Homo sapiens: one gene and its partners. The protein of the gene in region 1 purifies or fractionates together with the protein of each later gene. This does not show direct contact. Each region holds a gene or a part of one and is shown on either strand. Other genes may lie near its edges.

What was found.
Region 2: the proteins of RBPJ (region 1) and ZNF268 purify together in Homo sapiens (affinity purification with mass spectrometry; 4 studies listed by BioGRID and IntAct, with this or other methods). This does not show direct contact.
Region 3: the proteins of RBPJ (region 1) and WDR70 purify together in Homo sapiens (affinity purification with mass spectrometry; 4 studies listed by BioGRID and IntAct, with this or other methods). This does not show direct contact.
Region 4: the proteins of RBPJ (region 1) and MAML1 purify together in Homo sapiens (co-immunoprecipitation; 14 studies listed by BioGRID and IntAct, with this or other methods). This does not show direct contact.

What each region holds. Positions count from the first base shown.
Region 1 is NC_000004.12:26,415,000-26,422,021, reverse strand, and holds part of RBPJ (recombining binding protein suppressor of hairless), read right to left. Parts: intron 6,548-7,022; coding exon 6,382-6,547; intron 1,472-6,381; coding exon 1,297-1,471; intron 1-1,296. UniProt on the Homo sapiens protein: Transcriptional regulator that plays a central role in Notch signaling, a signaling pathway involved in cell-cell communication that regulates a broad spectrum of cell-fate determinations.
Region 2 is NC_000012.12:133,177,291-133,184,503, reverse strand, and holds the start of ZNF268 (zinc finger protein 268), read right to left. Parts: upstream 3,010-7,213; 5' UTR 2,818-3,009; intron 2,559-2,817; 5' UTR 2,507-2,558; coding exon 2,474-2,506; intron 1-2,473.
Region 3 is NC_000005.10:37,374,318-37,382,328, reverse strand, and holds the start of WDR70 (WD repeat-containing protein 70), read right to left. Parts: upstream 3,012-8,011; 5' UTR 2,962-3,011; coding exon 2,937-2,961; intron 2,841-2,936; coding exon 2,775-2,840; intron 728-2,774; coding exon 644-727; intron 1-643.
Region 4 is NC_000005.10:179,728,336-179,735,830, reverse strand, and holds the start of MAML1 (mastermind-like protein 1), read right to left. Parts: upstream 3,010-7,495; 5' UTR 2,719-3,009; coding exon 2,404-2,718; intron 1-2,403. Other genes in the region: CANX (calnexin), read right to left, coding at 7,187-7,240. UniProt on the Homo sapiens protein: Acts as a transcriptional coactivator for NOTCH proteins. Has been shown to amplify NOTCH-induced transcription of HES1. Enhances phosphorylation and proteolytic turnover of the NOTCH intracellular domain in the nucleus through interaction with CDK8.

The DNA of each region.
Region 1 (7,022 bases):
ATGACATAGAAGGAAAACAAAGGTGAGAGAGGGTGAGAAGAAACTATTACAGACTAAAATGTGTGGACCTTATCTGAATCCATGTTTGAACAAACCACTGTAAAACAAAACAAAGCAAAAAAACTATAAAAAGACATTCTGGGTCAATCTGATAAATCTGTACATGAAATAGGATATTAGATGACACTTAAGAGCTGCTGTCAACTGTTACGTATAATGATGTTTCAAAAAAAAGGGCATGTATTAGTCACTATTGCAGAAATTTTGGTTGAAAGGATAGGATGAGATTTACATTAAAATACTCCAGCAATTAGAAGACGAAGAGGTGTTGGTGGTGATGGAGATAATGAAACAGAATTGATAAAACCTGTTGAGGCTGGGTGGCTAATTTCTCCCTTTTATATAAATTTGAAAGTCTCAGCCAGGCATGGTGGCTCACGCCTGCAATCCCAACACTTTGGGAGGTCGAGGTGGGTGGATCACCTGAGGTCAGGAGTTCAAGACCAGCCTGGCCAAATGGCGAAACCTCATCTCTACTAAAAAATACAAAATCAGCCGGGCGTGATGGTGGGCACCTGTAATCCCAGCTACTCAGGAGGCTGAGGCAGGGAGGATTGGTTGAACCCGGGAGGTGGAGGTTGCAGTGAGCTGAGATCCTGCCACTGCACTCCAGCCTGGGCGACAGAGTAAGAGTCCATCTCAAAAAAAAAAAGAAAAGTCTCCATAATAAAAAGTTAAAAAAAGAAAAATGGGTGTGGAGGTTAAATTTATAATTCAAACATACTTGTTTGGTAGTCTAAAAATAGGCTGATGAGACAGCAGTCTCTGCCAGAGCAACCACATTAAAAATTGTGTTTAGATTCTCAGGAAGGCCTGCCAAAGCCCATTTAGTTGGTAGCGTTTTTCAAAGGGGTACTTGTTGACATTGTGGGTAGATCAATTCTTTGTGGAATGGGAACTACCTTGGACACTGCAGGACATTCAATTCAGCACCACAGGCTCAAGACACCCAAAGCCAACATCACCCCCTCCAGTCACTGTAACAACAGAAGGAGAAAATCTCCCATTTCCCCAGAATGTCCCTGGGAGCATTAAGGAACCAACTCTGGTTAAGAACTGCTTCATTAGACCACATACTGTCGATTTACGATTAAAAAAAGAGAGACAATAAAGAGGGCCACAAAAATATTAGTAAAGAATTAATTGGCTATTGAAAAGGCAATTTTTAATTTAAAAAAGAGTCTGTCTTATTAATTCATGGTGGCAGTTGGGGATAAATAAGAAAAGCATACATACAGTCAGCATTTTTCAATGACTGCTTCTTTTTGGAAGGTTTGGAGATGACTTTTATCCGCTTGCTGAGGAACACACCAATGTCATCACTGTTGCCATAGAACATCTTTACAGACAACATGAAGTGCTTTCGCTTGTCTGAGTCAGATATATACAATGTTTTGGCTGTGCAATAGTTCTGTGAAAGAAAAGTAAAGTTTTAACAGCAGCAAAACCTTGTTTGTTTATGTAGTACCTAAAACTCAGAATGGCCATGGTTTAAGTAATAAGTAAAACAATTCCAAGGGATAGCTGATAAAACCAACTCTAAAAATTATCAACTATAAAAATTACTGAAATTGATTTCGGAAAAGTACAAAGTCTTCCTTATAAAGTCTGTAGAACACAAACATTGTCATCTATTGTATCCTCTTTAAAAGACCATTTAAAAAAACAGCCTTTTCTTGTTTTACATAGCTCTACAACTGTATCATGGAATTATCACTCAACGTTACAGCAGTAACTTTTAAAATAAATTTTACAGTTAAAAAAAATCAATGACTTTCTCCAAAAAAAAAATAATAATAAAGCTATCAGAATTCAAGAAATTATGTAAAAGATTTTAGCAGTAGTTCTTCTCAAAATAGTGCATAAAATATTTTTCTTTATATAGCTGAACACTAGAGTAATCACTTATAAGATTGAGGAAAACAATGATAGACAAACTGGATGATTATAAAATATCTTAAACCAGAAAGAGATTATATAAGCATTACTTTAAAGAACTATTTTTAAAATGGTTAACTTTGCCCAAAAGGACGATTCATATGTATCACCAGAAGAACTGAATTTAAAGGTACTAGAGAAAATGCTCAAGGCATTATGTCAGTTTACCAGAATTTAAATTCTGATAACTGAAAAGATAAAGAGATATAGCACTTTACAAACAGCAAAGACCCTTCAAAATGCTACTGCTTATATTATATATAACAATTCTAAAATCTTTCCTATTCTCTTGATCCCTGTGAATCAGGGAGGGGTCTAAATTATTGTCCTTTTCCAGATAAGATAAATGATGCTGAAACACAGCATAAGTATCTAAAGTATCGAATTATATTTTTTAAAGGATCAACATTCCACTTTAAAATTAAGCTAAACAAGTTTCTTCAACTGCCTCTCCTGTATCTTCCTTTTAAAAAGCAGAGCAAATGCTACTCAGGAAACAGTTAATGACTTCTAGGTTTTTATCTTTAAAATTTTATTCACAGACAGCCTCGGTAGCAGACAAAACTACTGCAATAGTTTATTGTATTTCTCATAGCAAAGCTATATAAGAAAATTTAGATGCCATCTTGAACATTATACATTTAACTAAGTTTTTAAAAATCAAAAGTTTGGTAAAAGCTTTGAGAGGTTTTGCTCTGTAGAAGGCAAAAATAAGATAAAGCCAATCATAGTAATAAATAAAAACAGGCCAGGGTGGTGGCTCATGCCTGTAATCTCAGCACTTTGGGAGGCCAAGGTGGACAGACTGCTTAAGTCCAGAAGTTTGAGACCAGCCTGAGCAACATGGTGAAACCCCATCTCTACGAAAAACACAAAAATTATCCAGGCATGGTGGTGCATGCCTGTAGTCCCAGCTACTCAGGAGGCTGAGGTGGGACGGTCGCTTGAGCCCAGGAGGCAGAGGTTGTAATGGGCCGTGATCCCACCACCGCACTCCAGCCTGGGCGGCACGGTGGCACCCTGTCTCAAAATGAATAAAGATAAAGAAACAAAAAACAACAGTACTTTGCAGTCACATCACTCCTTGCACCCAAGATCTCTAACGCACTCAGAGATGGCATCTGTGAGCTGCTATACCCATAGGTCGGCCATACTCTTAAAAGTGACAGACAGCATTGAAGGTCAAATTAAGCCTAAACAATGAAATTCTTCTGCAACATAAGACGAGGTCTATGAAAATGGGTATCAATGTACTAAAGCAGACAGTCATGGGAAGCAAAAATGAAATTTATATCTAAATGAAGGTAATTACATTCTAATGGGAAAGCTTAAAAATGTTGAGATGGCTTTTGAGTGTTAAAATTAAAAGGTAAGATCCATATCAGAAAGAGAAAATACTGAAATCCAGCATAAATAAGACATATTGGCAAACAAGAACGGAAAAAAAGAACCAAGAAGGTTGGATCATAAGACCTACACAAAAAGAACTGCATTTTGTTCGGAAAAAACAAACACACATATATCTCCTTGGAAAGAAAGGAAATATATCCCTAATTACAATGAGTAGTTTGAATCCACAAAAATCATAATCAAGATAATTTTATGGGAACTATTAGTTTTAAAAAACTATAAGGCCACTGACCACAAACTACTCAAATTCCATTAAGAAAAGAAGGAAAAAGTCACTGACTCATAGAAAATAAGCAAATAAAACTAAAATTACATTTGCCTTGCTATTGCAAAAGGTTAAATTAGCTAACGGAATTCTAGAAGAGAAAATGGCATATAATCATCTCTCTAGAAATACTCTTTGAAAACAAGATCTTTAGGCAATAAAAGACATTTCCCTGAAAGAAAGAAGAAATACCAAATCTAATGCTGCAAAGTGATACTGCAGAAATGTTTAAATTATAGAAACAAAATGTTACCAAGAGTATATGATGTTTAAAAATAAGAAAAACACAAGAGTGTTAACTAAGTCATCCTTGTTGCGTAGCTTACCTAGCTGTGACTATAAAAAATGTAAATTTTTTTAACAAATTAAAAACATTACACAAAATCTAAGATCCAACATATTACCTACATACAGCCAAATGTCATGACCATAAATTTAAAGGGCTAGATATACTAGAATTTTGTTGCAGTGAATATTTAAAATAAGTATAAACACCAAAAATTGCAAAATGAATATCCCATATTTCTCAATAACTAATTGTACCACTCAATGAACAGACTATTTCCTTACACGAATGGAGTTTAAGTGAGGCAGACAAGAGCAAAGTGCCTCTCACTGAAGCTCAGAATCCGCTGCTCAGGACATCTTTGCCTACCTTGGTCAAAACCATGTTCTTATACCTTTATGCTCTAAGCACATGATTATATTGTTTTTTTTTCTGCCTGGGATGCCTTCTACTAACTCTCACCAGTCTTGCTTTACATAAACTTCCCTAATAGAATTTTTCCTTAAAATTAAATATTAACATATAATTTTGGCTTACAGACATTGTACTAACCTATTACTAGGTATTTTAAATACTAGTTAAATGCTCAAGCTCTCAGGTATTCTATTCCTCTTCTGCCAGTTTCTAGGCCTTGGGGAAAGGGTATACTAGTGGAAGTTGAAGAAAGATATAATGAAAAACAGCAGAAAGATCTCCATGTTGAGGCAGCCCCTAAAGGTACAAAATTAGGATGTGGCACTACTAAGCCACAATGCTGCGAAAGGCAAGCAGTGATACTACTGGTTGGTTTATTTGGTATCACCTCATTTAAAATTACTGGAAGCTGGAACTGGTTAAAATGAGCAATGAAGTAGGATTAAACAGTTATACACACAGGTAGCTAGAATCCCTGGCTTCTCACTACCTATCTGATCCACTCATTCATAGTACTGAATGTCTACATGTGAAGCCTGGAGACATATAACTCTGAGACTTCCTAGGTAACAAGAAAACAGATGAGACAAGACTTAAGATCTATTAGATCAACCCACCACTTAAATATATTCGTTACTTTAGCTCAGGGATCATAATTTAGAAATAGTTTTAGTGGTTTAAGATGAAACAATCTTTATTGTAATAAGTATTATCCCAAATCTAATTTAAAATACATAGTCAACAAATCTTACTTACAAAAACTATAAAGATATAAATGACATACAAACAGCTAAATTTGAAGGAGGTTGACATTAAGACCTGTAGTACTATCTGTAAAATCACTAAAATTCAATTTGAGAGTACAAATCCCCTAGCTCACCTCCACCAACACTACTCCCAACCCATATACCTAGTGCCAACTACAACATAGCAAACACTAAAATATTCAACAAGGATGTATCAAATAATGAAACAGCTGTTTATGCGCTATTTTAGAAGATGTTTAGTCATTGAGATCAGAACTAACCATTTTCCAAAGTACAGTAGCAAGGAAAAATAAAACCATAGCTAAATTCTAAGTGAATAAAAAACTATCTTTCAATACTAAAAGTATAGATTGGCTGGACACGGTGGCACACACCCGTAATCCCAGCACTTTGGGAGGCTGAGGTGGATGGATTGCTTGAGCTCAGGAGTTCAAGACCAGCCTAGGTAACATGGCGAAACCCCATCTCTACAAAAAAATACAAAAAAGTTAGCTGGACATAGTGACACACACCTATGGTCCCGCTACTTGTGAGGTGGAGGTTGCAGTCAGCCAAGATTGCACTATTGCATTTCTGCATGGGTGACAGAGTAAAAACCCTGTCCCGGGGGAAGAAAAAAAAAGATCTAGATTGACTGCTTTCTAAATTCATACAATATAATCAGTAAAACTAGCTGATAGATTGTTTTCTCTAGAAAATTAATTGAAGAACCCCTGCCACGCACTAAAATTTGAGTAAAGCCAACTGTGGCTGTTCTTGTCTACAGTATCACTCTGCTTCACTCTGATGTCAAGTAAACGTTTATGATCGTTATAACCCAGATAAATGCTTTCCACAATGTATATATCATCGTGTCTAGTATAAAACTAAGATTAAAATAGCAGAGTAAAACATTACTGAACAATGTATTTTTGTTGATAAACCTCTGTCAAACAGAAGATGAGCAATCAGCCTCCTAAATTTATTACTGGCTTCCAATAGAAATCTGATTTATAGTCTGCTAAAACTGCTTGCAAGCTGGGGAAGCTTACTGCATGCCACCTTCCAATGTCAGCAGCGTAAGCTTCATGAGTGACTAGACCAAAGCTATGAGAGGCATGTTTTTTGGTCCTAGTTTATATATTCAAGAAATTGTTACCAATAGTTATTAAAGAAAAAAATCTCCACCACAAAAATGAATATGAAAACTACATTCTGGTACCATGGTGCCCCTTTCTGGTGAACTAGCAGTCTTGATTTACCTTTCCTTCCAAGTTTAGCTGCTGCATTTCTTGGTCACTATTTCCTATCCCAATAAATGCACACGGTTGAGACTCTTGTTCAGAACAACCATCGCGTTCCATTTGTTCTTTTTTTTTCTTCCATCCACTGCCCATAAGATATACACAAGGAGGTGGGCAAAAAAACCTGAAGAATAATAGGGGAAAAAAAAAAACAAGAAGCAAAAATCAATTAGATTCAATAAAGCATTTCCTTTCCTTGAACATTATGAATACAAAATCATATTGAAATGCACCTATTCCCCAATGAAAAATTTTGGTGAAGCCTTTTGTAATGCAAATAATCATGCCCACAGGACAGAAATCGGGACTTCCACAATGACTAAATCTGTTCAGGCAAAATATTGGAGTTATGCATACAGTTAGATTAAATACTTTTTAGAGTACAGAACTTCTCTTTGTATGGCTCAGAGTTCTAAATTACCAGAGTTCAGCAAATCCAGTGTACTCTAACATATTACAAAACACGATAAACCACCACAAAAATCTGTAATTACTAATTAAGGCCTATTCAAAATGACACAATCATTAATGAGTGACATTACTATTATGGATACTGCATTTAACTTAATGTGGTAATTAACCTGGAAAATTGTGTTAGA
Region 2 (7,213 bases), on another chromosome or scaffold:
TCTCTTTGGCCATGTGAGGACACAGCATTCTTCCCTTTTTGCCCCCTTCCACCATGTAAGGATGTAGCAAGAAAGTGCCATCTTGAAAGCAGAGAGCAGAGCCGGGTGCGGTGGCTCACGCCTGTAATCCCAGCACTTTGGGAGGCTGAGACAGGTGGATCATGAGGTCAGGAGATCGAGGTCATTGTGGCCAACACAATGAAACCACGTCTCTACTAAAAATACAAAAAAAAAATTAGCTGGGCGTGGTGGCACACGCCTGTAGTCCTATTTGGGAGGCTGAGGCAGGGGAATCACTTGAACCCGGGAGGCAGAGGTTGCAGTGAGCCAAGATCGCGCCACCGCACTCCAGCCTGGGGACAGAGAGAGACTGTCTCCAAAAAAAAAAAGAAAACAAGAAAGCAGGCCTCATCAGATACCAAATTCACCAGCACCTTGATCTTCAACTTGTCAGCCTCCAGAATTGTGAGAAAGTAGTATCTGTTATAAGTTCCTCAGTCTGTGATATTTTGTTACAGTAGCACAAACAGACTAAGACAATGATCTAATATTACTTGATCTCCCTCATACATGTCACTTGACAAGCATTTTTGAGGTTTCCATTTCTTTAAGTGTGAATTACATGTCTCTATTTTGTCTTACTTTTCTTGGGTTCCATCTCAGTCTTCAACACCTCTTCCCCTGCTTTCTCTTGTCATTTCCCTGACCACTGTCCTCAGTTCTCTTCTTAGGGTACACATTCTCCCTGAGCTACTTTGGCCACACCTAATTTGCAACCTCTACCTAGAGGAGCCAATCCATACAAAACTGAAATCTTCCCCCTCTACCAATCACAATTCTGACAGTCTTCCCTTACTCAGCAAATGGTGACACTCCCAACCAGGCCCACAGAGTAGAACTCCAGTTGTCATCCCTGGCTTTTCTGCCTCTCTTAGCACTGCACCCAACTAGTTATGAAATCTAATTTCTTCTGCCTCTTTACCTCCTCTCCTTTTTTTTTTTTTGAGACAGAGTCTTGCTCTGTCACCCAGGCTGGAGTGCAGTGGCGCGATCTCGGCTGACTGCAACCTCTGCCTCCTGGGTTCAAGCGATTCTCCTGTCTCAGCCTCCCGAGTAACAGGGATTACAGGTGGGAGCCACTGCACCCAGCCACCTCCTCTCCTTTCTCAAAACCACTAATTTACTTAAACCCTTATATTCTCTTACCTGCTGCAGACTAGACTGTTCTACCCTCAAATCCGTTGTGAAAACACTTCAATAAGTAAACTCCTTCCCCTATACCAACAGTCCCCAACCAGGGACTCGTTTTGTGGAGGACAATTTTTCCATGGACGGGCAGTCGGGTGCGGCGATGGCTTCTGGATGAAACTGTTCCACTTCAGATCATCAGGCATTAGAGTCCCATAAGAAGTGCGCAACCTAGATCTTTCGCATGCGCAGTTCACAATAGGGTTTGTGCTATGAAAAGCTAATGCAGCCTCTGATAGGAGGCGGGGCTCCGGCAGTCATGCTCACTAAACCGCCACTCGCCTCCTGCCATGCACCCCAGTTCCTAACAGACCACAGACTGGTACCAGTCTGAAGCGTGGGGGTTGGGGACCACCTGCCCTATGTGATACAATCCAAGTTTTTAATGGGGTCCTCAAAGCCCTCTATGATCTTAGGCCTACGGCTCTAGCCTCATTTTTTAATATAACTCTACTATCACCATTAAACTCAACATTTTAGCAACCCTAAAGTGCCCAAAGTTCACCACATGAGGTCATTTCAAGCCTCTCAAATTTGCACGTTACTTCTTTTTCCTAGGCTGGTTTTAATCCTTTGTCTACTTTAGGTTTGTCATCTTTCAAACCTAAGGTTAAGAATCTCTTAATCATTGAAGCATTTGGGAGTAAGGGGTTAGGGGGTGTCCTTACTTCCAAAACTGACCCATTCCTGCATGTCTCCGTGTATTTCCACAGCCTGCTCCCAGAGCACTCATTAACTTGTCATTGTCTTTCTTATCCACCATTCCTAGACCACTGTTCTTCAAGACAGGGATGATAAGCAACCCATCTTTGCATTTTTAGCACCTGCCCCAGGGTCCAGCAAACAAAATACAATAAAAAAAAATGTTGAACAAGTGAATAAAAAAGTTTGTAATTTCCAAAATAAGGTTTAAAGATCCCAGATACAGAAGGCCCTCAGTAAATAAAGGCTGAAAAAACTGAAAGATGTGTGAGTATCCCTTGTTTAACTCCAAAGTTCAGCGTACAAAGTTGTTAGAAAAGAGATTGATGAAAGGAGGAAAAAAGGAAGTCGGATGACAAGAAGCATTTCTGGAAAGTCTAACATGCTATAAATGACGATCCAGTTGCCTAAAAGAGCGGTGGGGTGAGAAAGCTCCTGGCAAATTCAGACTGGAGTAGATGGAGTGCGCACACGTTGGCATTCAGGGAGAGCTTTTCAAGAATGAAAGAAAACCCCTACTCACCCAAATAGAAGCTGTCCGGACCCTGGTGGCCATCCCTACGGTCAGTTTTGTGTGCCTCGCTGGAAGTGACAGGACGCGAGGGATGCTAGAAGAGAGAGCACAGTGAAGAAAGAGGTCACCCAGCAGTCCCCAAACCCAGAGGGGGAGGGTCCGAGGCACCAGGGCTGCCTGCCATTCTCGGAGCTGAGGCTCCTTCCCTCCCACAGCACGGGATTCACCATCTCCACACCCTCACCAACACACAGGTTAGGGTCAGGCAACCGCCCCGGGTCAGCAGCAGGAGAGAGCTAAGGCAGATTAGTTCTGTCCCGTCCCGCCGCCTTGAAACCGGAGGAATTCCGCACCTCCGGCTCCTCCAAACCCTGAAGGGGCAGCAGAATAGAGTCCAGGGTACTGCCTCCACCTCCAGATCTGCAGCCAGAAGGGTTCGCAACCACTCCAGACTCGGCTGGCCCGTTGACCACGACGGGCGATGAACGCTATCTGAGGAACAAGGATCTCGCCATCGGCGCGGAACAATGGCGGCCGCTACGTATGTCGCACAGGAATTGCGTCATGGAGAGGCAAAGGCAAAAAAACTACAACTCCCAGAGGCCTCTGCGAGGAGTTACTCCCGCGCCGGAGGGCTCCGGCCAAGGGCCACCGGGAGGGGGCGTGCTAAGATGACCCGGAAGCTCAGGCCTTCCTGGCCAGGTCCCTGAGCTCCCGCGCTTGCAGGTTTTAAATTTTAAAGAGAATTAAAATACTTGACACCAATGGCTCAACGGTTGGAGGGATGTAAATTAGGTTACAAGTGTTCTAGTCCCTGCTTTACTGAAATGGTAAAAGTCTTATTTTGCTTTACACTTTAATAACAGATTCGTAAAATTCCCATTACATGTTAACATAAATAATATTTTAATGAAAATTACATATATTTTACAAAAGAAAAAATTTAGTAAGGAGTGGCTTCGCTTTTTAAGTCTTTTCTGACTTACTAGAAAGCTGGATTCTCATATCTGCTTCTATGTTTAATCTGTTGCGTATGTTGTTTTTGTTAAAGTATATAAAGATACAAGTCGAACAAGGGATAGTTTTGTTAGTGTACAATCTGAAACCACGTAGATGAACTTTTTCTACTCTATTACATAAAATCCGTTGGTCTACACTGCACTTTGAATGGATTCTTTTATCACGCATGATTTCGTAACATCATGTATTGGCCAGTTGGAAAATATTGGTTTACTTTAATGGCAAAAGCCGCAATTACTTACTTTTGCACCAACGGAAAATATCCACTAATCATTATTGATCTTAAGTATTGGGAAGAGGTGACATTCACAGAGGCAGATACAAGTTTTCTAGAATTCTTTTGTTTTTGGCTTTTAAAAACTTTTATAAATTTATGAGGTACAAGTGTAATTTTGTTACATGCATCAGTTGTGTAGTGGTGATGTCAAGGCTTTTAAGGTATCCACGCCCTATAGTACGTTATATGCATTGTACCAGTCAGGTAATTTATGATTATCCCTGAAACCCCCCCACACCTTTTGAGTCTTCATTGTCTATCATCCCACACTCTACATCCATGTGTACATATCCTTTAGCTCATACTTAAAGTGAAAACATGTGTTTTTCTTTCTGTGCCTGAGTTGTTTCACTGAAGATAGTGGCCACTAGTTCCATCCATGATGCTGCAAAAGACAATTTCATTCTTTCTTATGGCTGAATAGTATTCCATTGTGTATATATAACACATTTTCTTTATTCATCCATTCATGGACATTTAGGTTAATTCCATACCTGTGATATTGTGAATAGTGCTGTGATAAACATATGAGTGCAGGTATTTTTTTTATATATATAATGATTTCCTTTGGGTAGATACTCAGTAACAGGATTGCTTTATCAAATGGTAATTCTATTTTTAGTTCTTTGAGAATTCTCCACACTGTTTTCCATAGGTTATACTAATTTCACTTTCTCACCAACAGTGTATAGGAGTTTCCTTTTCTCCACATCCTCACCAACATCTTCTTTGTCTTTTTATTTTTATTATTTTATTTTATTTTTTGAGACGGAGTTTTGCTCTTGTTACCCAGGCTAGAGTGCAGTGGCCCGATCTCGGCTCACCGCAACCTCCGCCCAGGTTCAAGCAATTCTCCTGCCTCAGCCTCCTGAGTAGCTGGGATTACAGGCATGCACCACCACACCCGGCTAATTTTGTATTTTTAGTGGAGACAGGTTTCTCCATGTTGGTCAGGCTGGTCGCAAACTCCCGACCTTAGGTGATCCGGTCACCTCAGTTTACCAAAGTGCTGGGATTACAGGCATGAGCCACCGAGCTCGGCCTGTTTTTGTTTGTTTTGATTTTTTTTTCCTTTTGAGACGGAGTCTCGCTCTGTCGCCCAGGCTGGAGTGCAGTGGCGCGATCTGGGCTCACTGCAAGCTCCGCCTCCCGGGTTCACGCCATTCTCCTGCCTCAGCCTCCCAAGTAGCTGGGACTACAGGGGCCCGCCACCACGCCTGGCTACTTTTTTGTATTTTTTAGTAGAGACGGGGTTTCGCCGTGTTAGCCAGGATGGTCTTAATCTCCTGATCTCGTGATCTGCCCGCCTCGGCCTCCCAAAGTGCTGGGATTACAGGCGTGAGCCACCGCACCCGGCCCGGCCTGTCTTTTTAATAACAGCTACTGTGACTGATGTAAGATAATATCTCTTTTTTTTCCCCCACAACCTCGCTCTGTCGCCCAGGCTGGAGTGCAGTGGCTTGATCTCGGCTCACTGCAACCTCCGCCTCCTGGGTTCAAGCAATTCTCCCCGCCTCAGCCTCCCAAGTAGCTGGGATTACAGGTGCCCACCACCATGCCCGGCTAATTTTTGTATTTTTTATGAGAGACGTGGTTTCGCCATGTTAGCCAGACTGGTCTTGAACTCCTGATCTCAGGTGATCTGCTCACCTCGGCCTCCCAAACTGCTGGGATTACAGGCGTGAGCCACAGCGCCCGGCCTCATTGTGGTTTAAATTTGCATTTCTCTGATGTTTAGTGATGATGTTGAGCATATTTTCATATGCCTGTTGGCCATTTGTATGTCTTCTTTTGTAAAGTGTTATTTGTGTTCTTTGCCTGCTTCTTAATGGGATTATTTGGGTTTCGTTGTTGTTGTTGATCTGTTTGAGTTCCCTGTAAACTCTAGATATTAGTCCCCTCTTGTATGCAAAGCTTGCAAAAATTTTCTCCCATTCTGCAAGTGTCTCTTCACTCTGCTTACTGTTTATTTCACTATGAAGAAGATTTTTAGTTTAAGTCCCATTTCTCTCTTTTTCTGTTTGTTGCATGTGCTTTTGAGGTCTTAGTCATGAATTATTTACCCAGACCAATGTCCAGAGGGGTTTTCCGTAGGTTTTCTTCTAGTATGTTTATAGTTTCAGGTATTCCATTTAAGTCTTTAATACAGCTTGAGTTGATTTTTGTATATGGCGAGAGATAAGGGTCAAGTTTCATTCTTCTGCATATGGCAATCCAATTTTCCCAGCACCATTTATTGAAGAGGTTGTATTTTCCCCATGCTTGTTCTTGTTGACTTTGTCAAAGATCAGTTGGCTGTAGATATGTGGCTTTATTTCTGGGATCTCTATCTGTTCCATTGACCTATGTGTCTGTTTTTATACCAGTACTATGCTGTTTTGGTTATTATAGCCTTATAGTATAATTTGAAGTCAGGTGAAGTTATGCCTCCAGCTTTGTTCTTTTTGTTCAGGATTGCTTTGGCTGTTTGAGCTCTTTCTCGGTTGCATATGAATTTTAGGATTTTTTTTCTTTTTCTTTTTCTTTTCTCTTTTTTTTTTTTTTTTTTTTTTTTTACACAGAGTCTCACTCTGTCACCCAGGCTGGAGTGCAGGGTCATGATCTCGGCTCACTGCAACCTCTGCCTCCCAGGTTCAAGCAATTCTCCTGCCTCAGCCTCCAGAGTAGCTGGGATTACGCGTGTGCACCACCATGCCCGGCTAATTTTTGTATTTTTAGTAGAGATGGGTTTTCACCATGTTGGCCAGGGTGGTCTTGAACTCCTGACCTCATGATATGCCCATCTTGGCCTCCCATAGTGCTGGGATTACAGCTGTGAGCCACCGCACCCGGCCTAGGATTTTTTTTCTCTAAATCTGTGGAGAATGACGTTGATATTTTGATAGGGAGTGCATTGAATCTGTAGATGGCTTTGGATAGTATGATAATTGTAACATTATTAATTCCTCTGAACAGCATGGGATGTTTTTCCATTTGTTTATATCATCTACAATTTCTATCATCAGTATTTTGTAACTTTCCTTGTAGAGAGTTTTCACCTCTTTGGTTAAATGTATTCTGAGGTGAGCTTTTTGTAGCTATTAAAAGTAGAATTGCCTTCTTGATTTTGTTCTTAGCTAGATGTTGTTAGGGTACAGAAATGCTACTGATTTTTTGTTTTGATTTTGAATACTGAAGCTTTCCTGAATTCATTTATCAAATCTAATACTTTTTCAGTGGCATCTTTAGGTTTTTCTAGATATAAGATTATATCATTTGCAAACAGGGACAATTTGACTTCCTGTTTTCCAATTCAGATGCCTTTTATTTCTCTTGCCTGATTGCTCTGGCTAGAACTTGCAGTACTATGTTAAATAGCAGTAGTGTAAGTGGGCATTCTTGTCTTGTTCCAGTTCTTGGAATGTTTTCAACTTTTCTCTCATCAGTATGATGTTGGCTGTGAATTTGTCATA
Region 3 (8,011 bases), on another chromosome or scaffold:
CAGGAGTTCGAAACTAGCCTGGCCAACACAGTGAAACCCCATCTCTACTAAAAATACAAAAAATTAGCTGGGCGTGGTGGCATGTGCCTATAGTCCCAGCTACTCGGGAGGCAGAGGCAGGAGAATCGCTTGAACCGGGGAGGTGGAGGCTGCAGTGAGCCGAGATCATGCCATTGCACTCCAGCCTGGGCAACAGGGCGAGACTCCATCTCAAAAAAAAAAAAAAACAACAGTGATAAGTAGCATAACAACATTCTTTTCTCTCTTTGTTCTCTGAGATGGAATTTCACTCTTGTCCCCCAAGCTGGAGTGCAATGGGGGTATATCAGCTCACTGCAACCTCTGCCTCCCGACTTCAACTGAAGCCACTGCCTCAGCCTCACGACTAGCTGGGATTACAGGCCCCTGCACCATGCCCAGCTAATTATTGTATTTTTAGTTGAGATGGGGTTTCACCATGTTGGCCAGGCTGGTCTCAAACTTCTGACCTCAGGTGATCTGCCCGCCTTGGCCTCCCTAAGTGCTGGGATTACAGGCATGAGCCACCGCGCCCAGCCAACATTCTTTTCTCTTTTTTAATATACTTGCATGAGGTATACATAGTACTTAAACCAATAAAAGAACAAATATCTGAGCTTCTTACCCAGTGTTTTGCGACTTCTTTCCACAGCTGTCCTTCGAGTTTGTTCAAACATTGCTTCCAAGTCAAATGTGCGAGCTTTTTTACCTAAAACATGAACAAATGGGAGACTGTGATTGTCTTGCAGTAAGTTGGCCAAACTTTAGGTGATCAATACTGATCAATAAACACTTACTTTGTCTAGTTTATAGCATGGCTCCAATATAACCATAATATATCACAGAAGAAGGAGTTTGAGTCACAGAAAACTTCTGCTGACAATCCCTTCACTAAGTACTATTAACCAGGCAACTTTCCCATCCTCCTCTAGATCCCTACCCTATGAAACAACAACACTGATGTGGGGAGGCAAAATGGAGAATGCCCCAAAAGTTACCCTTTGCAATATAATTAAGGTTATGGACTTTTAAATAGGGAAACTATCCTATTTGGCCCTTAAAGGCAAAGATGCAGAACAGCTATGGCAGAAGAAGTCAGAGAGATCCAATGTCTGAGAAGAATTTGAGGCATTATAGTTGGCTTGAAGACGAAAGGGGCAACATGAGAAGTAATGCAGGTACTTTAAGGAGCTAAGAGGGAAACAGAAATCTCAGCCCTCTAACAAGGAACTGGATGAGCATGGAAACATTCTCCTCCTCCCCCAGTAACTTTATCAAAACTCTTAAAATTTTCCCCTATTTGGCACAAACATATGGACAACTTTCTCACTCCTGAGTAAAGGAATGATGTACTAAAATGAAGGATTTATACCGGGTGGGGTGGCTCATGCCTGTAATCACTTTGAGAGGCTCAGGTGGGCGGACTGCTTGAGCTCAGGAGATTGATCAGCCTGGGCAACATGGTGAAACCTCGTCTCTACCAAAAGTATAAAAAATTAGCCAGGTGTGGTGGCACACATCTGTGGTCCCAGCTACTCAGGAGACTAAGGTGGGAGGATGGCTTAAGCCTGGGAGGAGGAGGCTGCAATGAGCGAAGATCGCACTAGTACACTCCAGCCTGGGTGACAGAGCGAGACTCCATCTCAAAAAATAAAAAAAGAATAGAAAAGGCTGGGCACAGTGGCTCACGCCTGTAATCCCAGCACTTTCGGAGGCCGAGACGGGCGGATCACGAGGTCAGGAGATCGAGATCATCCTGGCTAACACGGTGAAACCCTGTCTCTACTAAAAATACAAAAAAAAAATCAGCCGGGCGAGGTGGCGGGCGCCTGTAGTCCCAGCTACTCGGGAGGCTGAGACCGGAGAATGGCGTGAATCCGGGAGGCAGAGATTGCAGTGAGCCGAGATCTTGCCACCGCACTCCAGCCTGGGCGACTGAGCGAGACTCCGTCTCCAAAAAAAAAAAGAATGAATAGAGAAACTACAGAACTAGTATGTGTGAACACAACCCAAGGCCAATATGTGTAAGTCTACTGTTTAATTACTATCATAGAATTAATACACGCTGGTCAAAAGAAAACAAGAAGACCTTGAGAAAAGGTTCAGGGAAGTTAGAATCCCAATGTTTGGATGAACAGCATTTATAATTTTAAAATGGAAAATAAAGAGAAATCATTTTTCATGTATCAGTCTACTAAGTTTTGTTTTCATTTTTTAAATAATTTTCTTTTTAAATAATAATACCTACTCTGTGTTGGTAGGGATATGGTAAAAATGGCATTCTTAATTCTGTTAACTTTGGTATAACCTGGAACAAGTTTTTTGATGGGTATTACGGCAATAAGCATCAAGAAGCTTTAAAAGGCACATACCCAATTTTTCAGCTTTTTAAGTATTTATATTTCTGAATAAACTACACTCTCTTTTAGAAATCTACCCTACCGAATTACGTATTTTTAAAAATCCTCGTACAAATGCTGTTATTTACAAAAATGTTCATTTTAGCATTATTGGTGACTTAAAATTAGAAAAATCCTTTCTCTTCCTCTCTCTCCAGACTCTCATAACTGTCATCTGAGTTGGTTCCAACGGATAACGCAGAATAGAAGACAAATGGGAGAAGAATATTGACAAACTGCAAGGTATGCACCCGAGCTACAATAATTCCGAGTTGACAGCTCGATCTCCACTCCCACTCTGCGGATCTTCAAACCTCTGCACAAGGAAGAGGGTCTCTGCCTGGGGCAGTCACTCACCGAACCCCGTGAAGCCCATGGTGACCGCAAGCTGCGGGTCCGGTCCCGACGCGTCTGAGCCTGTCACTGGAGCAAGAGGAAAAGAGAGGCGGCCTAGTTAGTGCGGCGCCCCAGCTCCCCCGACACGGCCCACCCCGCCCGGACTCGCCTCATGAAACCCACCTTCGCTGGGCCCAGAGCGCTCCATGGCTGGCCGCACACCCCAGAACCAGCCACAGGGACAGCCCAAACAACTGCAGGGGAACTTGCCAATAACTTGCGGCAAATGCTGGAGGAAGTACCGCCTTCAAGCTACAGCGGCGCCGCCGAAGCCAAGAGCGGCGCCTTCCGCAGAGGGACCGCGGCTTTCTGCGCGGCACCGCCCTACCGGACAGGCGGGAAAGCGCCGCGCAACTCAGACCACTGGAGGGGAGAAGTAGTATCTGGAGTTTCTATAACATCCTTTCCCTTTTTTTTTTTTTTTTTTTAAGCCAGAGCCTCTGTCGCCCAGGCTGCAGTACAGTGGCGTAATCTCAGCTGACTGCAACCTCTGCCTCCCGGGATCAAGCGATTCTCCTGCCTCAGCCTCCCGAGTAGCTGGGATTACAGGTGCCGGCTAATTTTTGGTTTTTTGTTTTGGTTTGTTTTTTTTTTGTTTTTGTTTTTGTTTTGAGACGGAGCCTCTGTCGCCCAGGCTGGAGTGCAATGGCGTGATCTCGGCTCACTGCAACCTCCGCCTCCCGGGTTCAAGCGATTCTCCTGTCTCAGCCTCCCAAGTAGCTGGGATTACAGGCGTCCACCACCACGCGCAGCTAATTTTTTGTATTTTTAGTAGACACGACGTTTTGCCATGTTGGCCAGGCTGGTTTCGAACTCCTGGCCTCAAGTGATCCGCCTGCCTCGGCCTCCCAAAGTGCTGGGATTACAGGCGACACCCTTTGCTTTTTTTTTTTTTTTTTTTTTTTTTGAGGCAGAGTCTCACTCTGTTGCCCAGGCTGGAGTGCAATGGCGTGATCTCGGCTCACTGCAACCTCTGCCACCCAGGTTCAAGCTCTTCTCTTGCCTCAGTGTCCTGAGTAGCTGGGATTACAGGCGCCTGCCACCACACCCGGCTAATTTTTGTGTATTTAGTAGAGACGGGGTTTTGCTATGTTGGCCAGGCTGGTCTTGAACTCCTGACCTCAGGTGATCTGCCCACCTTGGCCTCCCAAAGTGCTGGGATTACAGGCCCCGTGCCACCGCGCTCTGCCTTTTTGTTGTTGTTGTTGTTGTTGTTGACTGAGTCTCCCTCTGTTGCCTTGGCTGGAGTGCAGTGGCGTGATCTCAGCTGACTGCAACCTCTGCCTCCCAGGTTCAAGCGATTCTCTTGCCTCAGCCTCCCGAGCAGCTGGGACTACAGGTGTGCGCCACCATGCCCGGCTATTTAGTATTTGAGACTACAGGCACCCGCCACCACGCCCAGCTAATTTTTTCTATTTTTAGTAGAGGCAGGGTTTACACCGTGTTAGCCAGGATGGTCTCAATCTCCTGACCTTGTGATCTGCCCACCTCAGCCTCCCAAAGTTCTGCGATTAAAGGCGTGAGCCACTGCACCTGGCCTGTCAGTCTAAAGTTTACAAGGCTAATCGTGTGCTCAGGATTGTCCTTCTTAAACAGAATGTGGGAGTTCAACACTTTAACGTTTAGAAGGTGGAGAAGAATCTCTTTCTTTTTGAGACAGAATCTCACTCTGTCACCCAGGCTGGAATGCAGTGGCACAATCTCGGCTCAATGAACCTCCACCTCCTGGGTTCAAGCGATTCTTGTGCCTCAGCCTCCTAAGTAGCTGGGATTACATGTGACCGCCACCACACCCGACTTTTTTTTTTTTTTTTGAGACAGAGTCTCGCTCCATTGCCCAGACTGGAGTGCAGTGGCGCGATCTCAGCTCACTGCAACCTCCGCCTCCTGGGTTCAAGCAATTCTGCCACAGCCTTGCGAGTAGCTGGGATTACAGGCCCTGCCACCACCCCTGGCTAATTTTTGCATTCTTAGTAGAGACAGAGTTTCACCATGTTGGCCAGGCTGGTCTCAAACTCCTGACCTCAAGTGATATGCCCGCCTCAGCCTCCCAAAGTGCTGGGATTACAGACGTGAGCCACTGTGCCCGGCCTAATTTTTGTATTTTTTGTAGAGATAGGGTTTCATCATGTTGCCCATGCTGGTCTTGAACTCCTGAGCTCAAGCGATCCACCCGCCTCAGCCTCCCTAAGTGCTAGGATTACAGGCGTGGGCCACTGCACACAGCCTATGAAAGAATATCTTATACCAAACCTTGTACCTTTGGCGCTAAGCTGGATAAGAAGTGAGCATCTGATCAGCCAAGTCCACTGCTCCCATATTATCGTTATAATCCACAATGACACATGGCTTCTTAGTTTTCTTTCCATCTGTTGTCTACTTCAATCACAGTATCATTGTGGAATATTGACAACATTGTGACTGCCTTGTTGTCACACCATTTCAGTGCCATAAGTTCACCATGGAATTAACATCACACATAGGAATGCTATGTTTTCTAGGATTTGACATTTTCAGCAGTCGAGAATTACTATATTTTGTAAATGGAAATTCCACTACTAAAAACAGAATGCTATAAATAGAATAATGTCTTTTGTTTCCAAAGTCAATATAATAGAGTGATGCAAAAATAATAAAATAGTAGACACAAACTTTGGGGGTTAAGTCGGGACTGTAATCTGTGAGTTATCTTGGGGTAAAGGCTGCAGCTGCAAGCACCATCAGAGAGTATTCTCAGGGAAAATGGGAAATGGGTTAACAGTGGGTAAATCTACGGTGCCTGTAGTGTATTCGTTTTTTTGTTTTTTTGGTTTTGATACAGAGTCTCGCTGTTGTTGCCCAGGCTGGATTGCAATGGCGCAATCTTGGCTCACTGCAACCTCTGCCTTCCAGGTTCAAGCGATTCTCCTGCCTCAGCCTCCTGAGTAGCTGGGATTACAGGCATGCGCAACCAGACCGGCCAATTTTTTTTGTATTTTTAGTAGAGATGGGGTTTCCCCATGTTGGTCAGGCTGGTGTCTAACTCCTGACCTCAGGCAATCTGCCGGCCTCGGCCTCCCAAAGTGCTGGGATTACAGGCGTGGCCCACCACGCCCGGCCAAATTCTTACAATTTTATGTTGTCTTAGCATTTATTTTGAATATAAGTTGGACTTTCTCATATCAGAAACAGGGTTCAGTCACCCTTGACACCGTTTCTAGTTCTACACCTCCTCCCAGTTCCTCAATGTGATCAATCCAGGTATCTATTGTGTAAAACTTCCTCCTGGTGCCCGCCTCCCCATAGGATAAATACATACAGCCTACTTCACCGGCCCTGCTGACACTGACGTCCTACATGGACTGTGCAGATATGCCACAGTGACTACCTCGGTCACAGCATGACTTCCAAGAACGGGGTGTCCAATCTTTTGGCTTCCCTAGGCCACAATGGAAGAAGAAGAATTGTCTTGGGCAACACATTAAATACACTAACAACAGCTGAGAACTTTAAAAAAATCACAAATCTCACAATGTTTTAAGAAAGTTAACGAATTTGTGTTGGGCCACATTCAAAGCCATTCTGGGCTGACAAGCTTGTCCTCAAATTTGTGCATGCTTGCTTTAAACCCACCAATTAAAGTGTGGGAATTCCTCTTGGGAAATCTATTTGGAAAACACCATGAACCCAATAAATGCATTGGCTCATGAGTCCCTCTTTGTCTTTCCCTGACTGCATTCCTTGACCTCCAGGTGCGCCAGATGCCCCGCCAGGCATGTAAGTAATAAAATCTTTGTTTATATCTGTGTTTCTACTAATCATTGAAGAAGCATGCTCTATCTTAAAATTCCTAAATTAAAACAGTCCCTTAAAATAAATCAAGGCAGTAGGATTCAAAATGTTGTAGTAGTCACTGTATTTTTCAGTTACATAGGCGTTGTAAGCAAAATCAGTTTCCCTTAGGAATATCCTTAATAAAGCCATAAACAGTATTCATTTCGTTAAACCCTGACCCTTAATTATACGTCTTTTTAACCTTCAGTATGACAAAATGAGAAGTAATCATAAAGTATGTTTTTAAAAAAATTTCTTACAGATGGGGTCTCACTGTGTTACCCAGACTGGAGTGCAGTGGCTATTTACAAGTTCAGTCATGAAGCACTTTAGCCTCAAACTCCTGGACTCAAGCGATCTTCCCCTGCCTCAGCTTCCTGAGTAGATGGGACCACAGGCATACGCCACCATGCCCAGCTAATGCATATCTAAGTAGAATGGTCATCGAAAAGAAAACCACTTGTAATTGAGTGGTTAGCTTTTTTCATGGAACATTATTTTTACCTGAAAGAATGACTCACAAAGTACAGTTGTTCATATTTAAGTATTTGGCAAACATTTTTTCAAAAATAAATGAAATGAGTTTATCACTTTAAGAAAAACAGGTCAGGCATGGTGGCTTACACGGGTAATCCCAGCACTTTGGAAGCCGAGGTGGGAGGATCACCCAAGGCCAGGAGTTCGAGACCAGCCTGGCCAACATGGTGAAACCCCGTCTCTACTAAAAATACAGAAAATTAGCCAGGCGTAGCTGGGTGCGGTGGCTCACGTCTGTAATCCCAGCGCTTTGGGAGGCCAAGGCGGGTGGATCACCTGAGGTCAGGAGTTCAAGACCAGCCTGACCAACATAGTAAAACCCCCGTCTCTACTAAAAATACAAAAAAATGAGCTGGGCATGGTGGTATGTGCCTGTAATCCCAGCTACTCGGAAGGCTGAGGCAGAATTGCTTGAACCTGAGAGGCAGAGGTTGCAGTGAACAGAGATCATGCCACTGCACTCCAACCTGGGCAACAAGAGCAAAACTCCATCTCAAAAAAAAAAAATAAAGAAAAGAAAATTAGCCTGTAATTCCAGCTACTCAGGAGGCTGAAGCAGGAGGATTGCTTGAACCTGGGAGGCAGAGGTTGCAATGAGCTGAGATCGCACCATTGCACCCCAGCCTAGGCGACAAGAGCAAAACTCTGTTTAAAAAAAAAAAAAAACTGACTGCACTTGTTGACAATTATTAAAATACTTCTTCTTTTTCTAAATATGTAACTGAGGCCAGTTTTTCCTTCTTTCTTTCTTTCTTTTTTTTTGAGACAGAGTTTCGCTCTTGTAGCCCAGGCTGGAGTGCAATGGCACGATCTCAGCTCACTGCAACCTCCGCCTCCCAGGTTCGGGC
Region 4 (7,495 bases), on another chromosome or scaffold:
CTGTAATCCCAGCTACTCAGGAAGCTGAGGCAGGAGAATCGCTTGAACCGGGGAGGCAGAGGTTGCAGTGAGCAGAAATCATGTCACTACACTCCAGCCTGGGTGACAGGGCGAGACGCTGTCTCAAAAAAAAATAAATAGGCTAGGTGCAGTGGCTCACACCTGTAATCCCAGCACTTTGGGAGGCCGAGGTGGGTGGATTATCTGAGGTCAGGAGTTCGAGACCAGCCTGGTCAACATGGTGAAACCCCATCTCTACTAAAAATACAAAAATTATTAGCTGGGCATGGTGGCCAGCACCTGTAATCCCAGCTAGTAGGGAGGCTGAGGCAGGAGAATCACTTGAACCTGGGAGGCGGAGATTGCTGTGACCCTAGATCGCGCCATTGCACTCCAGCCTGGGCAACAGGGCAAGACTCCATCTCAAAATAAATAAATAAATAAAACAAATAGCATAGATAATATGTTTCCTAAATGTTTTGACAAAGGAGATTCTTACTGCTGTGGGTTAGGCTGGTCAGGAACTAGCTTTAAGGCAGAAGAAAGAGATAAGCTGGGACTGGCAGGGTGGCAGGATTCTGAAAGGGATGGAGGAGGGTCCCACAGGCGGCCTTTAAATTTATGAAATACTGTATTTTATTTATTTATTTATTATTATCATACTTTAAGTTTTAGGGTACATGTGTACAATGTGCAGGTTAGTTACATACGTATACATGTGCCATGCTGGTGCGCTGCACCCACTAACTCGTCATCTAGCATTAGGTATATCTCCCAATGCTATCCCTTCCCCCGAAATACTGTATTTTCATGTCCACACTCATTTCTTTTTATTCTTAAAAGAATCCTGGGGGCGGCACGGTGCGGTGGCTCATGCCTATAATCTCAGCACTTTCAGAGATCAAGTTGGAAGAAAGGATCACTTGAGCCCAGGAGTTCAAGACCAGCCTAGGCAATATAGTGAGACCCCATCTCTAACAGAAAAAAAACTTTTTTTATTTAGCCAGGCATGGTGATGTGCAGCTGTGGTTGATCCCAGTTACTCAGGAGGCTGAGGCGGGAGGACTGAGGAGGCTGAGGCGGGAGGATTGAGGAGTCTTGAGCCAGGAAGGTTGAGGCTGCAGTGAGACATGACTGTGCCTCTGCACTCCAGCCTGGGCGACAGAGTGAGGGGAGGGCAGGGAAAGAACACGGGGCGATAATAAGCCCAACATGCCCCTAGTTTACAGATGAGAAAAGTGAAGATGAGAAGGCTTGACCAGTTGATACAATAAGCAATGAAATCTGAGTGGTTTTTTTTCTTCTAACCCAGCAATCGAGGCTAGTGTGGAAGAGAATGAGAAAAATAATTCAACCAGAGCAGAGGACCTGTGAGGGACATTAAAAGATAGGTTAGGTCAGACTGGTCCCAAATGCCAAACTAAAGACTTTGAACTTCATCCTTTCAAGCAAGAGAAGGATTTCCAGCATTTCGAGAATAAGGGAGAAAGAAACTAAATGCCTACAGACTGGTTAGTTAGCTAGGGACAGGCACTGCAATAGCCCAGGTGAGAGATAATAAAGGTATGAATTTAAAAATACACATAACAAATTAGATTTTAACATTGGTTTTAAACTAAAATCCCCAAGAAAACCACTGAAAAACCTTGTCTCTTTTGTAAATCTGTTTCAGGAAGAAAAACCTCTAACCAACAAATTTCAGGAACATTTACTGAGAGCCCAAAGGGAGTAATAATTGACCAACAATCTAACATCATCAGAGATTTTAAACAGGCCTGATAAATTAAAACTAGAATTGTCAACAATATTGCAGGAATCTCAAGTTCACAAAGTTCAGGCTACCTAAACAAGGAATACTTATATGCAACTCATTGAACATTTTACTAAGTTTTCCAAAAATTTCTTGATTTTCCATTCAGAGGAGTTTCAGTTGGTCAACCAAAGGCCGACTTATTTCCACATGAAAGCCCTGATCCTGCTCACAGCACAGGATCTTGTAAAGGGCAAGGACCCAATAAACATTTGCAGAATAAATGAGGCCAGGCCTACGGTGCAGGAACTCCCTCCATCACAGGCGACTCGAATGCTAGTCTATTTCGAATAAAGATCTCAACATCCCGGAATCAAGTCTGGAAGAAAAACCCTCCGGTTAGCGTTCGCCAGCCTTCCCAGGTCGGGCCTCCTGCAAGGCCCTCAAGGCGCTGTTTTCCCAAAGTAACGCCACCGTGCCACTTCCCAAAGATGACAACCTCTCAGCTCCCTGCCATGTTACCCTCTCTCCAGCCAGATCCAGGAGTCGCGGACGCCTGGGGAAGTCTCCCAGCGGCCCGATCCGCGTCAGAGGAAGCGTTTTCGGGAGAGGGGGCTGCCGCCACGACAAGCGCCTTCCCGCGCCCTACTCACCGTGGCCGGGCGGCCGTGCTCGGGGCCGTCAGCGGCGTCCAGGCGCGGGGCCGGGGCGGCGGGCGCCGGGGCCGTGGCGGCGGGCGGCTGCCTGTGCTTCCCGGCGCGCTTGGCCTTGGCCTGGATGCAGCGCTGGTGCAGGGCGAAGGTGTGTTGGCGCTCCAGCTCCAGGCGCTCGGGCGACACGGCCTCGTAGCGGGCCTCGCAGGTGCTGTGGTGGCGCCGGCACAGCTCGATGCGCCGGCGAAGGCGCTCCATGACCGCGCTGTGCCGCGGCAGCGCGAACTCCGCCATGGGGCAGGTGGGCAGCACCATGGGCCGCGGGCTGCACGGGCCGGGCCCGGGGCCGGGCCTCTCGGGGCCGGCTGGCACTGCGGGCTTCGCTCCCCGCGGCTACCCCTCTCCGCCTCACGGCCGCGCCATGCCCCCGAGGGCAGCGGAGCGGGCTCGCGCGCGGCGGCGGGTTTTCCTCCTGCCCCGCTCGGCCCGACCCCCAGCCGGCGCTTGCTGCCTACCTCAAGCCTCGGCCTCTCCCCACCGCCCCGGCCCCATTGTTTTCCGCGCTACCGCCGCGGCCGCCATCTTAAAATTGTTTTCGGGCCTCTCGGAAGAAGGCGGGGCCTCGGTAAGAGACCTTGTGCATCACGACTGATGAGCAGGGGCCCTGGCCAATCAGAGAAGGAAGAACCGGCCGCCCGAGGGCGTGGGGACGAGCACGCAAGAGGCGCGCTCGGGCGCCAGAGCGGTATTTAAAAGGAATTCTCAAGCGAAGGGCGGAGGGAAGCCCCTGGGCGGGCCTTAATCCTGGGGGCGGAGCTAAGCGTGACTGACAGGAGCCCGTCCAAGAGGCGGCTATTGGTTTCCTGCACAGCACCCGCTGAAGGCAGGCCCTTCCGGCTACCCCGAGAAAAGGGGAATCTGGCAGGCGAGTGCGGCGCAGCTGGCCAGTCCCTGTCGCCCGCCTGGCAGTACAGAGACCTTTTTTTTAAATTATTTTTTAAATTTCGACTTTGATAAACTCTAAGTAGCCACGCTATTTTAATGTCAGCCGTTTTACTTTGACCTTATTCCTTGTATCCAGCCCCATAATTGGTCAGAATCGTCTAGTGAGCTGGTAGTTTCCTCTTGCAACATTCCGAATCACTGGTAGTTTCCACCTATTTGTAAAAGCCCGAGCAAGTTTCAAAAGTGCAGTATTACTCACTACTTAAAAAAAAAGTCCAGAAGATGTGAGCAAAAGCATGCAAGAGTGCAGCTCCATTAGAGGGAACTGGAAATGCAAAGGACGACGTTTCACCACAACCACCGCCTTCCAGGCTCAAGCGATTCTCCTGCCTCAGCCTCTCCAGTAGCTGGGATTACAGGCATGCGCCACCACGCGCGGCTAATTTTGTATTTTTAGTAGAGACGGGGTGTCTCCATGTCGGTCAGGCTGGTCTCCCACTCCTGACCTCAGGTGATCCGCCCACCTCGGCCTGCCAAAGTACCGCGATTACAGGCGTGAGCCGCCGCGCCGGACCAAAAACAGTCCTTTAGGTAAAACTGAGTTACTCAACAAAACCAAACCAAGACAAATTATGCCCCATTATTAAAACTAATAGGCAAAGGGGAGTAGAGGGACTGGAGCAATCAAACAGTGTTAGTACTAAAACTAGATAGTGTGATGCCAAAGGATATCAGGAACTCTAGATATGGGCACTCTAATTGCTAAAAGGTTAAGCAGGAGGTGGCAGGAGGCTGCACATTGAGATACACCATCAGTAGTTCAAACATTCGTTACTCTAGCTTTTTACTAGGGCTCATGAGGTTTTATTTTAAAATCAAGAGAAAACAACAATCAAATATGTCTTCATACAAACGCAGCAGAAAAATACAAATCCTAATGTTTTAAATGGAGAAAGTGGGCCACCAAGGCAAAAGTGCCATAATGCAGTCCTGCTTTTTTTTTTTTAGCATTCAAACAAATTTTACACCAGAACTAAACTATTTCTTAATAGAAAAAATAGTAACTAGGAGCACTACATTCTGTGTACATACTTTTCTTTAGTATGTAATCTAAAAATTTAATAGCACATAAAAAACTGGGCTAACTTTCAAAAATACCCCTAAAGTATTTAAGTATATGTAAAATAATGGAGTCTGATTCTGAACAAATAATTTTCTAATAAAAATTTCAAAGTTCAATGGTTCCCCTAAGTCTTAAAGAATATTATCTACAAATTATCAGTAGCATTCCCTCCTTTTCTGAGCTGCTGTCCACACTATTATACAACAGAAACTACTGCACCGCAATCACATGGGCAGGAAGAGGCAAGGGCTAGACAGAAAAGACTGCATCAAACTCACGTGGTGAGATAAAAGTCATTATTTCACTGTCCATAATAGTTTCTGCCTAGTAGTGAACTCTCACATAGTGGCCAATTATACGAAGATCAACCCACTAATTGAACATAGTCACACACACACACTGAAGGTTACTATGAAGAAATTCAGTCAAAAGCAGACACTTAACACAGGGCTTTAATGTAACACCATTTAGTAACATGACAAATTGAAAAGTGAGGAGTACTTTGTGGATAAGAAAATGGAGGAACACATCTGATGGAGAGTGGGCATTTGACAACAATGGAACAGGTAACCAGCATGTAAAATCAAAATATAAGTGTCTTTTTAAGAGCTGAAAGCTGCTGCTGGTCATTCATTAATGTGTCAGACATTTAATCAGGATGCTGGACCTTCAAAATAACTGAAAAAAGAACCAAGAAAAGGCGTTTTTGTTTTCAACAAACTTTACTAAATAACCCTGGAAAGGCAATGAACGATCTGACAATTTAAGCTCTAATGATTTAAAGCTCAGCTAGAAGAAAGTGAGGCATGACATATACTGTCAACGGAGGGTGAAGGAGGCAGATTTCTGGAAATGCAATGATCCCACACATTTGCTTCAAGGAGAAACCTGCAGACATATTTTCAGGTCTTGCTAAGTAACAACTGTTTATTTGTAATCAATACATTTGGGAAAGTCTGCTATGTAGCTAAGGTCACTGTGACCACAGAACAACAGATGAAAAGGAAAAAGCACTGAACAGCAAGAAAAATACATCCCATCCTCAAAAGAATTTAAGTGAACAAACTTTAAAAAGAAAAAAAAATAGATACAGCCTTCATCTTTTACAAATATATTTCCTTCCCAATATCTTCCCAATATAAACACTGTGGAGTGTTTATATATTCAGTGCAAGAAACAGTATCATCGGTACATTTGAAAGCCTCTAAAGAACAACTGAAGCTAAAATAATATCTAACTCTGAATACGTTTCAGTGTAGAGTAATAATAACATTATTACACTATAGTGGTGTGGGAGAGGCTCTGATAGCACCCATCTGCATCCCGCATGAAAAAACAAACCTAAGATCACTTTTTTAAAAATTCTACAAGCCACGTTAAAAAAAAATTTGAACAGGACTGCTTTATTGTGTAATTTATGACACAACTGTTACATGAATTGCAAATGAAGGCTTAAAATATATAGCAGCTACAAAAAAAATCAGATAACTCATGCTTCATGTCACTCCTCCCACAAATACTTCTAGTCTGTTCAACTGCAGTCAATTCTGTATTGGTTTGCCTGTGAATTAGACTTCTCAAGTCTTTACACAGAGTAAAAGAAATGGATAAAAATCAAAGTATTTTTCTGTACTTTGTATCAATGTATTCTATTCTGTACTTTGACCCTGGAAAGGTATGGGTCTGCTTAAAAGAAAGAAGAAACATACACGTAATCACAATAAAGCTTAACATTATGCAGGGCTTATAATCATTTTCAGCAACGGACTGCAAGCTGCACTGTGAAGAAAATGCATAGCAGAGGAGAAAGCTGGGGATCTGAGGAAATAGGTAAGGAAAACAGTGTCAACACACAGTGGAAGAAGTGATGAAGACATCTATTCCGGAGCTCACGTGCCATGCCCTGCTAGCATTCCTTAACAAGCCACCTGCTCCAGAAGGCCACAGCCTGACCCTCCCAAGTGGAATATAAATGCCCAAGTGCCACATGAAGCCACCTCCTCCACTACCTAAAAAGCTGTCTGGGAACTGAGCTACAGAACACACACACTTTCTGGTCTAACAAACATCAAGTGAAAGAATTTTTTCTTATATATCTATTTTTAATACAACTTAAACGCAACTTTTATATGAATTTGGGCTTCTATTCAGTCCCTCTCCTCAATTTCCTTAGGAGGAACTCAATAATGGAAGCAAACAAAACAAGATTCTAACCACAAATGACTGCACTTTAAACGTAATTATCAATTTTGAGGGACAGAGGTGTGAATGTTTTACAATACCAAACTTTAAAAAAAATCTATTATAAAAACTGCAACTCATCTCCCTAACATTTTTAAATGGTGGTATTATGTTTGCACAAACAGATTAATACATTAAATTAAGCCAAGATCTTAAAGACTGGCAAAGTTCTATCATTCTATTTTAAAAACAAAGATGTTAAAAAAAAAAAAGTTAGTTTGCTTCATGTTACATTTCACAACCATTATGTTAAATGTTTTCTTTTCTACAGAAACAGGGTCCTTTATATCACAACTGCAAGTATTTACTGCTAGATGTTTAAAGTTACACAGACTAGTGTTCAACTGGAGCCTGCTGATGGTGATGTCTTGAAGTTTTCTGAATGTCAACCTAAGGTGTGCCAGGTCCTCTCCTAGGACCACTCTTGCAGGGGAGGAGGGAGAAGAAATCACAGATCAAGCTCTTAAGATTGTTTCACTCTCTTCGTGGCTTTCTGTTTCTTGGTGATCTGTTCAAAATTTCATCCTCCTATTGATTGAAAAGAAATTCATTATAATTAGCACATTTAAAAAATAATAAAAGTTCACCATATTTTCAAGATCAGCCAGACTGAGGGTAACTTATTTGAGGAAAAAAATGAGGAAAATGATGAGAAGAAAATGCACCAAGAAGAATGGTTGTCTCAGAGGTGGTGGAATTATGCCTACTCTAATTCAGTTTAGTCTTTATTGTTTTCTATAAACATACACTTTTCTCAATCTAACCCATAAACATTTTCTTAAA